Linked DNA regions of Homo sapiens: region 1 is linked to region 2. Evidence: fine-mapped expression QTL. A gene starts in region 2. The other region holds a variant in brackets. All regions are shown on one strand. Distances are between the middles of the regions. Region 1 overlaps EVC (EvC ciliary complex subunit 1). Region 2 holds the start of EVC2 (EvC ciliary complex subunit 2).

Region 1 (8,000 bases), 49 kb before region 2:
ATCACTAAGCAAAAAGGAAAACTCAAGCTGAAAACTGCTCAGGGCAAACCTGCCTCCCATCTATTCACAGTTATCTCTCTGCTCATTGAGATAAATGCAGATCTGATTGCCTCCTTTGGAAAGGATAATCAGAAACTCAAAAGAATGCAACTGTTTATCTCTTGCCTACCTGTGATTTGGAAGCCCACTTCCCGCTTGGAGTCTTCCTGTCTTTGCTTCAAGTTGTCCCACCTTTCCTGACCGAACCAATGTACTTCTTACATGTACCGATTGATGTCTCCTGTCTCCCTAAAATGTATAAAACCACGCTGTGTCCGGACCCCCTTGGGCGCGTGTCGTCAGGACGCGCCCTCCTGAGGCTGTGTCCCAGGCTCGCGCAGCCTCAACCTTGGCAAAATAAACTTTCTAAATGAACTGAGACCCGTCTCAGATGTTCTGGGTTTACATTTATATACTGCTTGGCTTACCCTTTGCAGCAATCATTGATAGGGTTTTACTCAGGCTGTCAGCCTGGTTGTGTAATTGTGAGCAAGTGATCTAACCTGTACCTCAATTTCCTTAATCTTGATGACATTCTGATGCACAGCAAGGTTTGAGAACTGCTTTAGAGAGGATGGGTGAGAATCCAATAAGCTACCATAGGGGGTGAGGAGGAGAATGCTGCTGAAACCACCCCCGCCGCCCATAGCCTCTGGGCCACCTGGGCTCACCTCCGGCAGGGGAAATAAGTGGCCCGGCTGGGAATTTGAACCCCAGATGTCTGGCTCCAGAGCCTGGGCTTCACCATTATGCTCCACAGCCCACACGTAAGGCAGGATAGGTAGTCAAGGAAGTGACCATGTCCTTGGGATGCGGCGACCAAACCATCAACACAGTAAGCCTCAGCATTTACACTGTAGTCTGGCTCTTTCAAGCAGTTATCTGCAGTAGGCAACGTCTCCTGCAGTCGGCAGGTGCACTTTGATTTTATCTGTCCTCAGACTGACCCTCTGCGCCATTATAATAGTAAAAAACACACCTTTGGACGGAGACTTAAGATGCTAATGAGACATGTGACGTATGAACAAGTGTGTACAGCTACTGTGCCTGGGCACTCAGAGGACCCGCCCCCACCGCCCTCCACAACATGCTTACTAATAATGCTTCTTCCCACGCCCTTATGAATAATCACATAAGACTCCCCAGAAAGGGAGTTTCCCCGGTAAGTCAAGGCTGTCTCATCTGCTCTGAATCATCTCCCAGGGCATCCTGTCTATTCTGCACCTAACTTTCAGAACATTCTTTCTCCTTTGCAATAAATTGCTCTGTGCTGCATCCCCTTTACTGTGGTCTCTTGTTTACATACTTTTAAACTAAAAACACAAGAAGCGAGGTTTCACAACAGCCGTCAACACTGAGCAGCATGGTTGGGGTGAGCACATCAGCACTAACATTAGAAAGCCTTTATTTTAAATCTCACCTTCCCCGCTTGCTAGCTGTGTAAAACCTGGGCAAGATACATGGGCCAGCACAGACAGGTTATGTAACCAGCCAAGGTCACACAGCATGTTAGCACTCAGAGGAAGATTAGAACTTGGTTTCCCCATGCCCAGCCAGGGATGTGAGTCTTGACTCCTCTGGGGACAAAGTTGTTCCTTTCCTGTCTGTGGGCCCCAGGGCTTTGACAAATTGAGCCCCATCCTACCCATTTCTGGAGAAAACACTTCTTCACTCCTCATCTGGGAAGGAAGGAAAATGCAGTGTCTTCCTCATGAATCTCATGAGAATTAAATAATCAAATACTCAAGAGGCACTTAAGATAGGAGCTAGCCCTGAACAAAGATCGCCTTCCGTTTAGTTTCCTGTGGCTGCCATGACAAAGCGCCGCAAACTGGGTGCATTAAGACAACGAAGTTTATTCTCTCACCGTTCCGGAGGGCATTAGTATGAAACCAAGGTGTTGGCAGAGCCTCGCCCCCTCCAAAGGCTCTGGGAGGGGCCCTTCCTGGGCTCTTCTGGCTTTTGGTGGCTGCAGGTGTTCCTCGGCTTGTGGCTGCATCACTCCAGTCCCTCCTTCTGTCTTCAAACAGCCTCCTTCCCTGTGTCTCTATGTCTTCTCATGGCCTTCTTATAAGGACACCAGCCATTAGAATTAGGGCCCACCCGAATCCAGTAGGACCTAACCAACTGTGCGATCTAACCAATTACATCTGCAAAGCCCTTATTTCCAAGTGTGGCCACATTCCGAGGTTCCAGATGGACATGACGTTTTGAAGGACACTGTTTGGACTAAATTGTGTCTCCCTCCAAAATTCTTAGGTTGAAGCCCTAACCTCCAATATCCCATGTGACTGTATTTGGAGGTAATTAAGTAATCAAATTCTTATGTTGAAGCTCTAACCTCCAATATCCCATGTGGCTGTATTTGGAGACAGGGCCTTTAAGGAGGTAATTAAGGTTAGATGAGGTCATCAGGGTGGGGCCCTAATCCCATAGAACTGGTGTCCTTATAAGAAAAGGGAGAGACCAGAGCCCTCTCTTTCATTCTCTCCCCTGCCCTTCAGTCTTCCAAGCACAGAGAAATAACCGTGTGAGGAGGCAACGGGAAGGCAGCTGTCTGCAAGCCCGGAAGAGAGGCCTCACCAGAAGTCAATCCTGTTGGCACCGTGATCTCGGGCTTCAGCCTCCAGAACCTTGAGAGAACGCTTTTCTGTTGTTTAACCCACCAGTCAGTGGTATTCACCACGGCAGCCCTAGCAGGTTAACAGAGACATGACTGACCCCAGTGCAGCTCCCATCCGGGTGAGGAGTTGCACTTCCCACCACTGCATGAGCTTCTCCCTGATGGGGATGCCCGCTGACTCCTTGTCCACTTGGGCCTGGTCTCATCCAATGCTTGGCTCAGCAATGCCTCCTACAGGCTGCTGTCCTTGACGTCACCTTCACCCAGGAGCCCCTTGCCTCTCCTCTGCACTCAGAAGCAGGGAAGCTGTCACTGGAGACAACGTGCCCTGGGGTGTTCCGAGTGCCAGCTGCTGTCTCGGGTCCCCAAACACAGTCCTCCT[A/G]GCACACCATGAAGAAGAATTATGACTGTCCCCATTTCACAGATGGGGAAACTGAGGGCTAGAGGCCAAGTGATGCTCCTGTGGTCACGCAGTGAGGAAGCGGGGAGCCAGGACACAGACCCAGGCCCTCTCCTCCTCCCAGTGCTGCCCAACACCCACTGGTTGATTCCTTCATAGCCAGGTGTCCACACTCCTGTCTTTCCAACAACTGAGGATGCTGCCTGAGGCAGGGGCTCTGTCTGGCTCAGCATGGCATCCTGTGACTCCTGCCCCTAAAGAGGGCTCAGGTGCCCTCTCCTGCTCTCTGAAAGTCACCCTGCAGGGCAAGCATGGCCAGCTTCACCTCCCCACCCCAGACCTGCACACGGTTGCACAGGGGAAAGAGGTGGTGTGGCATGTGATCTCTGACGTCCCCATTTCAGCCCAGAACCCCTTCTTCATCACCACTTTACACTGATGACACCCAGAAACCCTGGGCCTATTTCTCACCTGGGGAGAACGGATTTCCAAAGAGCTTTGCTGACAGGGATGTGTGGAGATAAGAATCCTCAGCACCCCAAAAATGGACGGTGCCTCAGAGAGGACCAAGGCCAACTGCCTCGGTTTCTGATGTGGGCAAGGAGGATCGCATGGAGGGGACACAGCCTGCGTGGATCACCGGCCAATGAGTGCGGGGTTGGACCTGAACCACCTCTGGGGTCCCCAGCCAGGAGGATGTGAGGTTCTCGCACACACACAGACCCTGGGGCTTCTCTGCTGGTCCCCACAGAGGCCATGTACCTGGCAGAGTGCAACCACAGCCTCGGTGGCTCTGACATTCTCCTCTTCCTCCAGGTCACACTGCATCAGCCTCTGCCTCTCCAGGACCTCATGAAAAGCCTGTGAGGAAAACAAGAGCTGAGTCTGGTAGAAACATGCAGGGTTTTTTTTTTTTTTTCCAGAAGGTTCTCCAACCATCCCCTGCATCTCAGGTTAGAAAGAAGGATGTTGGCACCTGTATTACACACAAGGAAACTGAGGCATGGGGCTGTCACATGGCTTTCACAGCTGATGCCAGGGTCAGCAAATCCGATTTCCAGGAAACACCACAAACCACCACGCTTTTGTTAAAGCCAGGATGAGGAGGGGCCACTGGACCACTTCTGTCACTCCTCTGTCCTGGCTGCAGCCACCCAGACATCACTTTCTGACCACCCAGGCCATGGAAGACCCACTGATGGGAACCCAGCAGGGGTGACACAGACTGGCGATTGGAGGTCAGTGCAGTCAGCAACCAGCCAGGCCCCACTGTGACCACGGGGTGGAGGCCCTTCCCTGAGGACCCCAGCAGAGCAGCAGGAGACTGGGCTAACCCGGGCATCAGCAGGGGGAGACCCAGCCAGCCCTAAACAGAGCATCAGCGAGGGGCGAGGTGGGGCAGAAGGACAGAGGAACAGACCCTTCTCAGGGAAGGGTTGCAGGAGAAAATTCCCTGTTGGGGAGATGTTTCAATGGAGTCTCTAAGGACAAGGAAGGACTCCTTGGAGGGAAGATGGGGAGCCAGGCTCAGCGAGCAGCAGCAGAGACCAGGAGGTAAACCCCCTAAGATCTTTGGTGATGCTACGGGCAGGAGGTGAGATGAGAGAGAAGGGCGGGACTGGAAAAAGGTGGGTGCTGAGTGTGTACTGGGAGCCTGGTGTCGTTCGTTCATTCTCCCACCCATTCCATCCTCCTTCATTCGCTCGTTTGCCCATTTGTCCATGTCCTGGTTCATTCAGGCACGCATGCGCTCATTCACCCTTCCCTGCCTGCGTCCCACGTGTCCTGAACGCCAGCGCTGAGGCGTTCCGAGGACTGTACCGAGGCCCTGGGACACCAAGGTCACCCAGGCACTGTCTCCACACTCTGGACTCACACTGGGCTCTGTGACATCAAGGACAGGGGCCCAGAAATATCCAAATAACGAGGAGCTGAATAGCCTTATCTTCCTCTTATTTCAAATGGGTCTCAAAGATAGAAAAACCTACCCTACCCCTTTGTGGCAAATGCAGAAGCTCCAAGTATGGGCCTGGAAGAGGCCCCCTGGGTGAGGGAGGCAGCTGGACCAGGGACCTAGAGGCCTGTCCTCTGTTCTCGGGGGACCCCTCCATTGGCTTCTCACTGCAGTGGTGCCACCACCACCAGCTTGGCCCCCAGGGAGAGCCCCTGGGCCTCTATTCTGGGCTGAGCCTGGACCCAGACATGGTGCCACCCACCCCTTGGCAGAACTGAGATGTGCTGTACCAAGTGTTGACGGAGGGCAGGCGGACCCAGGCAAACAGTGAGGCTGGGGCTGCCCCTTCCTTGGTCTCACTGAATCCTAACAATGCTGTGATATAGGTGCCATTATGCCCATTTCACAGATGTGGAAGCTGAGGGCCAGAGGGTAAGCAACATGCCCAAGGTCACCCAGCTATTTAGTGGCAGAGTCAGCACCCAAACCCAAGTGTGGCTGGCCTCAGCGCCCAATGCTTAACCAGCCTGCAAGACGGTTACGGACAAGCTGGTCCTCTCCCAGCCCCACTGCCCATTACTAGTGAAAGCAAGCAGAGCGAAACCAGAGCTCGGTGGTCTCTCTGAGAACTGGCGAGTCCAGGTCCTTAGAGCCTGCACTGGGGCCAGCTGACTCCTTTTCCTTGGAGGGTGACATCTTGCTTTTTGTCCTCCTTCAGGTCTTCTTGTCCCCTTCTCAGGCAAGACCAAGGGTACCTCTGACCTTGGCCACCTCCTGGCCCTGACCACTCAACCCCACATGCAAGGCTGGGAACTCCCTTCCTTCTCCTGGACTTGCAGCCGACCCACAAGGGCCCTGTCCCTGGGTGTGTGAGCCTGCCTTACTCTCCGGGACATGCTTGTCCCCTCTGGGCCACACATTGCTCCCTTCACGCCATTGCCACCATCTGTGTGCTCCTGCCATGCGTCTGCACTCTGCCAAGCTCTCTACGGATCCTACCCCCTCCTCTTCTCAGCAGCCCAGTGAGGGCAGCACAACTCTTATCACCAGCTTACAGTCCACTAGGACCCTAGGGATGTAGGGGCTAAGGGACTGAGATTCGGTCACTCGGCTGACACATGGGAAGTAGGCAGATAACCTCATGCCTGATGAATACCTCCGGCGTCCCGTGCTCAGTCACGGGAACAGAGCTACAACTGGCTCACCCACATGTGCAGAGGCTGGGGATGTGAGTCACCTCGAGAAACTTTTCCGGGTCAGCAGTCGGCTGGGCCTCAGCCAGGAAGCTTCTCTGTTCCTCCTCTTGGGCCAGCGTGAGTTTTGCCGTTCCCTCCACCTGGTGAGCCAGAGACGCCGTGACCAGGTCTTTGCCTCGCTGGACAAACTCTGGGATTGAAAAAAGCCACAGCATAGGAGGTGACTCTGTGAGCCAGAATTTCAGTGGGGACCCTCATGCTTTCTCCTGTCTGGAGGTTGGGGAAGCTGGTGTCGGCTGCAGAGATGGTGCCCGCCCTGCTGGTGACACACCTGGGTTTTTCTGTAGGTCCCACTAGTAGTGTGACCTCAGCTAAGCCCAGATGCCTCCACGTCTTGAGCCTTGCCCCACCCCCACCCCAGGGTCAGCCTTGGGGCAGGAGCATGTGTGGGACACATGCACGGCTCCCCTTCCTGCCCCACATGCTGGACCATGGCCCACCCTCACCCACTCTGCCGCTGAGCAGGGCCACATGACTCCAGCATGACCATGAGCTGCCGCTGGGCGACAGGGACCACTTTGTGTAAATTTCTAGTGAGACCCTTCACCCTCCTCTGTCCCTCTGCAGTTCCTGGTGGCTTTGCTGCAGGACGTGGGGACTCAATCAGCCGGAATCCCTGGTGAGTGAGTGCAGCAGGTGACCCCTGCCCTGGGCAGTGGCCCTCATGGACTCTGCTGTACAGAGAAGGGAAGAGAGCCCCAGAGAGCAGCCCAGTGACCCAGTCCCTAGGGCAGAAGCAGAAAGGCAGCCTGTGCCCGGCATCATGGGCACACTGCCCCAGGCTGCCAGCCCTCTCACTGCACAGCCCCAGGGACCCAGAAGGCCAGTGTTGTGGACGGCGGCACCCATGCCCACGGCTCACCCCGGCTGAAGCGCTCTGCCTCCTGCCAGAAGGCCTTGTGCTGCTGCGTGAGCAGCTCCTCCTTCTGCCGCCCGGACAGCTTCCCCTCACCAGCCAGCAGCTCCAGGCCGTGGGAGATGGCAGCCAGCCGGCACCTGGTCTCCTCCTGGACTTGCAGCTTCAGAAACTCAATCACTTTTGCCATGTGCGCCCGCCCCATCGTCCTCTCCAGGGCGTCCTGCAAAAAGAAACACACAGGACCATAGCTGGGGTGTCCTGGGAACCACCAGGGCATGTTAATTAACAGCTGAGAAGAAGCCACCAGGGTCATTAACTAATGGCACTGCCTGGGAGAGCGGAGCTCAGAGGGATGAACTCCCCCTCTCCTTCATGAGCGAGATCTGCGTCTGCCCCCGAGGTGGGGATTAAGTGTCTCTCCTAGGGTGCGGGGAGGCTGACGCAGCTTAGCATGTAGGCACTTAGTCACCAGTAGCGCTCCCCAGAGGGCCACCCTCCTAGGAGGGAATCCAGATTTACAAACGGTCAAGGAGGAAAAGCCACCTGGCTTATAGTCATCTCCCCCGGCCAATCTGGCCCTGTGGCCCCCACAGGGCTGTGGAGGAAATGCAAAGTGCCAGCAGTTCCTGGCTTTTGTTAGAGCCCCAGAGAGCCTGACTGCTGAGGACGGCCGAGATTTTCAGGGGAATGATTGGCTTCCAACACGACTCCCCGCAGTCAGATTCTACAGAAGGCCCTCCCCAGCCCCACCTCATCATTTCAGGGACTCTCAGAAAAGACAGGGGGAAATGTCAACCGGAGGCAGCCAAGGGCCCTGCACACCTGAGAGCAGCTGCTTGTGGAATGAGAGTAAGGGGGAAAGGAGGAGC
Region 2 (8,000 bases):
CCAACCAGGCTCAAGGAGTCGCAGAGCCGGGGCTCCGGGCCCGCAGGACCCAGAAGCCACGCGCCCCGCGCTCCCCGCCCCGCCGCTGTCTGCTCGGCCGACCCACCTGGTGTCGCGTGCGCTGGCGGCCCGCGCGGCAGCCAAGCCAAAGGCCGAGGCCGAGGCCGAGCGCGGCGCCCAGCAGCACGGCGGGGGCCAGCAGGGCGGGCGCCGGCCGCAGCGCGTCCCGCCCCAGCAGCAGCCGCGCGTCGCTCTTGCAGGCCGCCCCGCCGCGGGCCATCCGGGGCGCTCAGGCTGCCGCCCCGCCGCATCCCGCCGCCTGCTGCACCGTCCCCGCCAGGGCGGCGACGCGGGACTTGGAGCCCGGGCGGGCCAGGGGCGCGGCCCGCTCCGCAGACTTTCTGGCCTGTGCAGTCTCCCGACTCCTGCTTCTCTCCCCTTCCCTGCTTCGCCGAGCCGGAGGGAGGAGCCTGGATCACCGCTCAAAACTTTCAGCCACCCCCGCCCCAGCCCTGCCCCTGCACTGAGCATGCCCAGAGACAGACGCGCCTCCCAGCCCCGGACCCTTCCGGAGGGGGGCCCGGTTTCCACCCCTTTAACTTTACTGAGGCTTAGAAGGCTCCTTTAAGTTTTTTGAGGCTTAGAATATGCTACGCATTTAGCTTAATGATCTCATTAACTTTCTCAATAACCCTCTGCGGTGGGTGCTCCGCCCATCCTCCTGATGAAGACGCTGGGATCAATGCAATTCCAACCCCCTGCCCTTGCCCCTAACCTCTACCCATCAACCTTCCCGGGAACACACCGCCCTCCACGCCTCTGAACTTGCTCACGCGAAGACTCCTGTTTTAATCTTATTTTGTCCCAGGGAAGGTCGAGACAATGGGTGGAGACACCGTTACACTCAGTCTCCACTAGGAGGATGGGTAAAGGGATCCTTACACCCAGACCCCACTGAGACGATGGGTAGAGAGACCCTTACACCTAGTCCCCACTAGGACCAAGGGTAGAGAGACCCTTACACCCACTCCCCACTGAGACAATGGATAAAGAGACCCTTACACCCGCTCCCCACTAGGACCAGGACACTGCACCATCCTTCATTTACTCAGCACTTGGAGAGAATCTGTTGTGTGTGTGTTGCAGGCTGGGGGATAGGCCAGCCACAAACCAGGCAGTGTCCAGGCTAGTGAGTATCTCACAGTTGTTTAGAGTGATAAAAAATTAAAGGAGTTCATCACTGTGTTTGCTTTAAACAAACATTTATGGGGTAGCTACTAGATGTTTGCTTTTGTCCTGGGTGCCTGGGTAAAGCACACATGCACATGCACGACTGCACACTTGCACTCAGGGGCACACACACACACACACCTACCCTGTGGAGCTTAATTCCCTGTGTGGGCCGGGCTAGGGGACACCATGGGGATCTGCTTCAGCAGAGGAGGGCTTTGTCCTTTCAGCCTAGATGTCCAGCTTGTTTCTAGTTTGTTTCATCATTTCCTCATGGCAAGATGGGAACTGTTATCCAAATTCTTCATCTTTTTTTAATAAATGAAGAAACTGACAGCTGGAGAGGAGAGGTGACTCATTTGCAATTAAGGAGTGGGGCAGAATTCTTGTCTCATTTACACCTGTGTCTGGCTTCAGGGCAAACTCTCTGCTATGTGGAGCTTCTTATATATTACCTTAGAAGCATCTCCAAGGTTCCTGGGGACATGTATGGGGGCAATAACTTGACGCTCTTGTTTTACATTTCCATGAATGCTTAGGCTTTAGTTTTTAAAATGTGGTGTTTGGGCCAGGTGTGGTTGCTCACGCCTGTAATCCCAGCACTTTGGGAGGCTCAAGTGGAGGATTGTCTGAGCCCAGGAGTTTAAGACCAGTCTTGGCAACATAGTGAGACCCTGACTCCATAAAAAATACTAAGGAGATTTTTTAAATGTAGGGTTATTTGCTTTTTACTTTATCATAAAGTTGTTGACTATTAAATTAACCTTTAAATGACTGACTGTCAAACAACTCCAACGGTCCAGCAACATGCTTGGCATTTAGCCTGTGGTCTTGTCACATGCCTGACAGCTGCCACGTACCCCCTGGTGTGGGGAACTTGGCTTATAAATTCTCAGCTTCTCGAACCCCATGGCCTTGTCCATGTTAGGTCAGGAAAGGCCTGTCCTTGGATGGTCTGGGTTATGGGGAGAGAGGCTGCCAGGGGCCAGGCTCGCTGGCCTGAGACTTTATAGACAGCCTAACAGCCTGCCCCGCAGGAAGGCTGGCGGGAGTGGAGCCCTCCCCCGTCAACAGGTGTCAGCTGTCACCCAGGACCTAGGCAGGGATGAGGAAGCACACAAAAGGCTCCACCAGTCCCCCTTTTTGTGTCTTTCTCCTCCTCCTCCTCCTGCGTCCCTTGGCAAAGCAAATCCCTGTCCCCTCGGAGAGTTCAGGGAGAGCTTGCTTAGGGCTGCGACTTCAGACACCAGCTCCCCTCTTTCTAGGTCCCCAGAGAGGTGGCCCAGCGGCTGGCCTGTTTCCCACTGGGAATGCGAGGGGCACCCGGGCCGGCCCAGGGCTGACCCACAGCAGGCTCGGGCAGTGGGTGCTCAGCTGGTCTGCACTGAACGCAACCGGAAGTGAGGGTCCTTTTCCTTCTCTGCGGCCACCCCCTCCTCCCCGAGCTTTCCTGAACCTTCTGGGTGCTCCAGGACTCCCGGCCCCGCGCTCCAAATGCTTCTCCGTTTTCTAAGCGGGGATGGGGAAACTCTGGATTCACATCCGTGTGTCAGGAAACCGTTCCCAGGGGAAGTGCGTCTGAGCTGAGGCTTACAGACCCAGGTAGGCGGTAGCGGAGGGGCCCTTGGGGTCCTGGTAACCTCGGGGAGCAGGGGAGTGACCCGCTCTGATTCGGTTTGGGCGCAAGCAAACCCAGGCCTGGCCGCCGGGCGCCTGGGCCGCGCCAACTCGCTCTCCCCCTCCCACGCCCGTCCGGCACCTCCTGGCCCGCCAAGCCCCAGATGCGGGTGTTTGTTCCAGAAAACTTTCGGCGGCGGCTCGCACTGAGCATGCTCGGCGGCGGGGCGGGCCTGGGGTCCGGAAGCTCCAGCGACTCGGCGGCACCCGCCGCTTTGAGGTAGCGGGTCCCGACAGGCGATGGACCCCTCGGGCTCCCGGGGGCGCCCCACGTGGGTGCTGGCCGGGGGTCTCCTGGCAGTGGCCCTGGCGCTGGGGGGCCGAGGCTGTCTCGGCGCCAGCTCACGTCCCCGCTGGCGCCCCCTCGGCGCGCAGCCACCCCGGGATCCCCAGGTGGCTCCTAGGTCTGGGCCCGGCCTGAGGATCCCTCCGGGGCGGAGCGGGGCGGGGCCCGAGAGCAGCACGCAGGTAAGGAGGGCCCGACCCCAGGCTCCGGTCTGACTGTAGTGGTTTGACTTTGTCTACACCGGCGGTGGCAGGGAGGACCCTTAGTATTTCGCAAAGAATGAGGAAGGGAGGGCAGGATCTGAATAGGGTGCTTCGCGGCCCTTAGGTGTATCCCGCTCACGGCCAGAAAGCTTCGAGGGAAACTGGAGACCTTCCTCGGGGTGTGGCAGCTGCCGGCTTGGACTTCACCAGCGACCCTGGTTCGAATCCTGCTCTCCATTTTACGAGCTTCGACCTAGGGCAGTTCACTCCTGTGCCCCAGTTTCCTGATCGTTGAAACGGGGCCGTCGCGGCGTCCACCCCAGAGGGTGGAAGTGGGTTAGATGAGCTCACATATGCAGAGCCCCTTGCAGAGGCCAGCACTGGGAAATTGCAGCGGTTTTTAAAAGTGGGGGCTCTTGGCTGGACTCTTAGGTGACTGAACTCTCCTGGCTGATGGATTTAGCCACTTCCTACTTCACCCTGGCCCTCCCTCTGTGGTCCTAAACTCGAAAGGCATGGATCCCTGGCTGTAGCCCTAGACTTGACCTCCCCCGACAAAGCTGGTCACCAGTCCTAGTGCCTTTTCCTCCAAATCAGCTCGGATGTCTGCCCCTCCTCACTCCCCACTGCCACTCCCTGGCTTCAGGTCCCACCACTTCACTTCCAGCCCTTGGTGATGGTTTTCCCACGTCTCCCATCCATTTTCCCCCAGACCTCTGGGGTGGTCTGTCCTGGTAGACATTCTGCCACTCCTGTCCCATGCTGGCACTCTTCTCTCCACCTTATTGCCCCTGACAGCACACCCAGGCTCCTATTCCCAGGACTGCCCTGGCCAATGGTCTGGCCCATTGATGCTGCCCTGAGGTCCTCCCACCTCTCTCCTAGGGTGGTGGGTCGTGTCCTGCTGTGTTCTCTACCCCAGGACACTTGCGACACTGGCAGAGGTTTAGTCTCTTAAAAGAGACCCTGCTCCCTTTCTGTCTTTAGGTTTTCACTGGAAAAACGCCATGTCAGTGTCCTGAGCTTTCAAAAGTCCAATGACAGAACATGTTCCCTGGGTCCTTTCACTTGCATCTGCCCTGTGAGATGGGAGTATCTGGCCCGTTTTGCAGGTGACAAAACCAAGGCTCAGGGAGCCGCGTCCCCAGGCCTGTCCTGTACTCTCTCTCTGGCCCCCGAGTTCAGAGCCTGCGTGCCTGGCCTCACCTGCTTTGCACAAGCTCTTCCTTCTGGGAAGCCAGTGTCAGAAATCCTGGTGCACATTGGCCTCTGTCAGCCACAGTGGTGTTGAGGGTGGTCCCTGCCAGAAGGGAGGGACGGTGCCTACTGGGAAGGGCCTGAAGCCATCTAGGACCATGGTGGGTGTAGAGTACCTCACCCTCAAGGGCAACCCCTGCCTTTGCAGGAATCTGGGAATGAGCACCTGTATTCAGGTGCCCTTGGCATCTTGAGCACGTCCCCTGGGCCCTGGCCCTGCCCACGCCCATCCCAGCTGTTGATGGGACCAGCCTTCTTCCGTCTCTCTGGGCCTGTCTTGCATAGCCCTTCTGCACACTGTACAGGAAAGAGCTCTGGCCATGTGTGTCCCTGCCTTGGCCACTCCCTCTTGTGGGGCCTGGGACAAGTCACAGCCCTCAGGGTCTCTGCTTCCTCTTCTGAGCAATGGTGTAAGGGCTGTTCCCAGAGCACAGTTCCCGAAGGCACAGGTTAGTTCTTCCTATTGTAATTATATGATGCCTTCATGTAATTACTTGATACCATCTATCCATCCATTCATTCAATATTATCTATGTATGTATGTATGTATGTATGTATGTATCTATCTATCTATCTATGTATCTATCTATCTATGTATCTATCTATCTATCTATGTATCTATCTATGTATCTATCTATGTATCTATCTATGTGTCTATCTATCTATGTATCTATCTATCTATCTATGTATCTATCTATCTATGTATCTATCTATATTTATTGCACCTTTGCTAAGTCCCATGCTGTGTGCAGGGGGCTGGGAGACCAATGCCTAATTGCACACAGTGATTGCTGTGAGGAGGAGGATGGGGAGCCGTGAGAGAGGGTGGAGGAAGGAGGTCATTTAGTCTGGAAGGTCAGTCAAGACTTGAAGGATGGGCAGGTTTAGCCAGGGAAGGAGTCAGGAGAGAACATCCCAAGTGGAGGAATCGTCATGGGTGTGGCCCGCATGTAGGAGGAGCTTGGCATATTCCAAGTCTCTGGCCCCCTGATGCTGGGACATCTCTTGGTGAGAACATTTACCACATTGTTTGGGCTGCTTGTCTGTTTCCTTTGCTGGACTGTGAGTTCCTGTGGGCAGGGATTTTACCTTTTTTAATTTCATCATTTGATGCCCACTGGGAATGCATTTTATTCCCCAGTGGTTCTTAAGGTGGGGCCCAGGGAATCCCTGGCGTCACTGAACCATTATAGGGGTCCATGGAGTCACAGCTATTTTCACAGTAATACTGAGGTATTACTTACTTTTTCTACTCATTTTCTCACAATTGTGCGATGGGGTTTTCCAAGGTGACAGGAAGTGTGATGTTGCAGCAGATTTAATGTACAAGCAGATTTGAGAATCCAGCTCCTTCCATTAACTCAGACATAGATGAGGTTTGCAAAAATGTAAAAAAATGCCATTCTTCTCACTTTTTTTATTTTAGAAAATAAAACAGTTTTAGTTTATTTAGTTTTCAAAAAAAAATGCTATTTATGTTAATATGCAATGGCATTGTTATTCCTATTTAAAATGAATTACTAGACACTTTAAAATATTCTCACCTTTAATTTAAAGAGAGTAAATGTTGATAAATATAATCAGCACAAACAAAAGTTTTTTGGAGTCTTCAATAATTGGAAAATGTGTAAAGGAGTCCCAAGACCAACATGTCTGAGAAATCAGTGCTCAGTAGCAAGCCTATCTGATGTCCCAAGAATTAGAGATGAAAGAAACCACCCAGACCCTTTGAAAGATAAGTGTCTATTTCAGAATGGGATCCTTTCATCATTTTCACCATTTCATTATGCTAATAGTATCATTTCGTTATTTTACTTGAAGTACCACACAACAGTAATTTAGGTTGGTTGTGATGCCAAGTTCAGTGGATTGGGTGTGTCCCAGATTTGTAGAAAAGAACAACAAAAAATCAGCCAGATATGATGTAACATTATCTGTTACACTGTGTAATTACTATAGCTTCAAAACTGCAGCCTTGGAATTCTGAGTTAAGGGAACTATTAGTCAAATAAGCTCACGCCTGTAATCCCAACACTTTGGGAGGCTAAGTCAGGAGGATCGCTTGAGGTCAGGAGTTCAAAAGCAGCCTGGGAAACATAGTGAGACCCCCATCTCTACAAAACATATATATATATATAGCTGTGTGTGATAGCACATGCCTGTATTCCCAGGTTTTCAGGAGGCTGAGGCAGGAAGATGGCTTGAAACCAGGAGTTCGAGGATGCAGTGAGCTATGATCTCACCACTGCACTCCAACCTGGATGGCAGAACAAGACCCTCTCTCAAACAACAACAACAACAAAACAAAACTTCCTGAGAGCTTGGTCAGGAAAGATGGAGATCATGAGTGTATCTGTGCTTCACTTGATCTTTAATGGCCGGAGCACCCCAGGACTCAGTGCTGGGTTCTCTTCTTCCTTCTGTCAGTACTCACACCCTTGGTGATCTATCCCCTGGCAGCTCCCGAATTTCCATCTCCAGCCAAGACCTTCTCTGAGCTCCACCGTGGATCTGCATGCCTACCTGACATGGCCCGTGGAGGCTCACAGGCACTCCACAACTCATGCACCAAGGCAGAACCGAAATCCTGCCCCTTGCCTCCCTTCCTGTCAGTGGTTCCTTTGTCTTTTTCTTGCTGGGCCCAGAGGCCTTGGCACCCTCCTTGCCTCCTCCCTCTCCCCAAGCCCCACATTTAGTCAGCATATCGCATGGGTTTCATTTTCAAAACACACCCACAATCAACACAGTTTTCACTCTCTTTACAAACACCATCTTCATCTGAATTGCCACCTTCTCTCTGGGATTATTGTGGAGCCGCCTGACTGACCTCCTTGCATCTCCCCTTGAGTACTTCTCTGTTCTCAACAGAGCAGCCAGAGTGTCCCATTTAAAATGGCTATTATGCCACTCATCACGGAGTAGCTCACGGTGGCTTCCCATTGTCCCCAGAGCAGAAACCACTCACTCGCCCTGCTCAGGCACCCTGGCCTCCTTGTGTTCCTTGAACACCCTGGGTGTGTTCCCACCTCAGGGCCCTTGCACGGGTCTTTCCTCTGCCTGAACTAATGCTCCTCCCCCTGATACCCTGACAGCCACTCTGTCACCCTGTTAAAGCCTTTCAACATAACCCCATTTAAAATGGCAACCCCCATTACTCTCTGTTCCTATTTCCTTCTTTATTTTGCTCCACTGTTCTTATCACCTTCTAATATACTATATATGGTATGTTACTGTTTTGTTTGTATAATATATATAGTATACTATGATTTTGCTTGTAATTTTCCTAAATAGTGTTCTGAGAGTAGAACTTTTGATGTCTCGTTTGTCAACGTATCCTCATTTTCAAA

The links.
Region 1: its variant is fine-mapped to the expression of EVC2 in fibroblasts (GTEx, PIP 0.90).

The regions. Positions count from the first base shown.
Region 1 is chr4:5,752,187-5,760,186 of GRCh38, reverse strand. EVC (EvC ciliary complex subunit 1) reads right to left here. Exons shown (of 21, transcript NM_153717.3): 9 at 7,135-7,351; 10 at 6,254-6,402; 11 at 3,825-3,923. Among named protein-coding and RNA genes, the nearest start is that of EVC, 45 kb to the right of the region's middle. RefSeq lists enhancers at 868-917, 586-1,785, 6,288-7,243. The variant A/G (reference allele first, on the strand shown) is at 3,045.
Region 2 is chr4:5,703,661-5,711,660 of GRCh38, reverse strand. It overlaps EVC2 (EvC ciliary complex subunit 2), which reads left to right and starts at 3,102. Exons shown (of 22, transcript NM_147127.5): 1 at 3,102-3,375. The coding sequence starts at 3,148. EVC (EvC ciliary complex subunit 1) reads right to left here and starts at 460. Exons shown (of 21, transcript NM_153717.3): 1 at 107-460. The coding sequence starts at 280. RefSeq lists silencers at 252-401, 452-501, 3,013-3,062, 3,103-3,482 and enhancers at 2,543-3,162, 7,466-7,515, 7,576-7,625.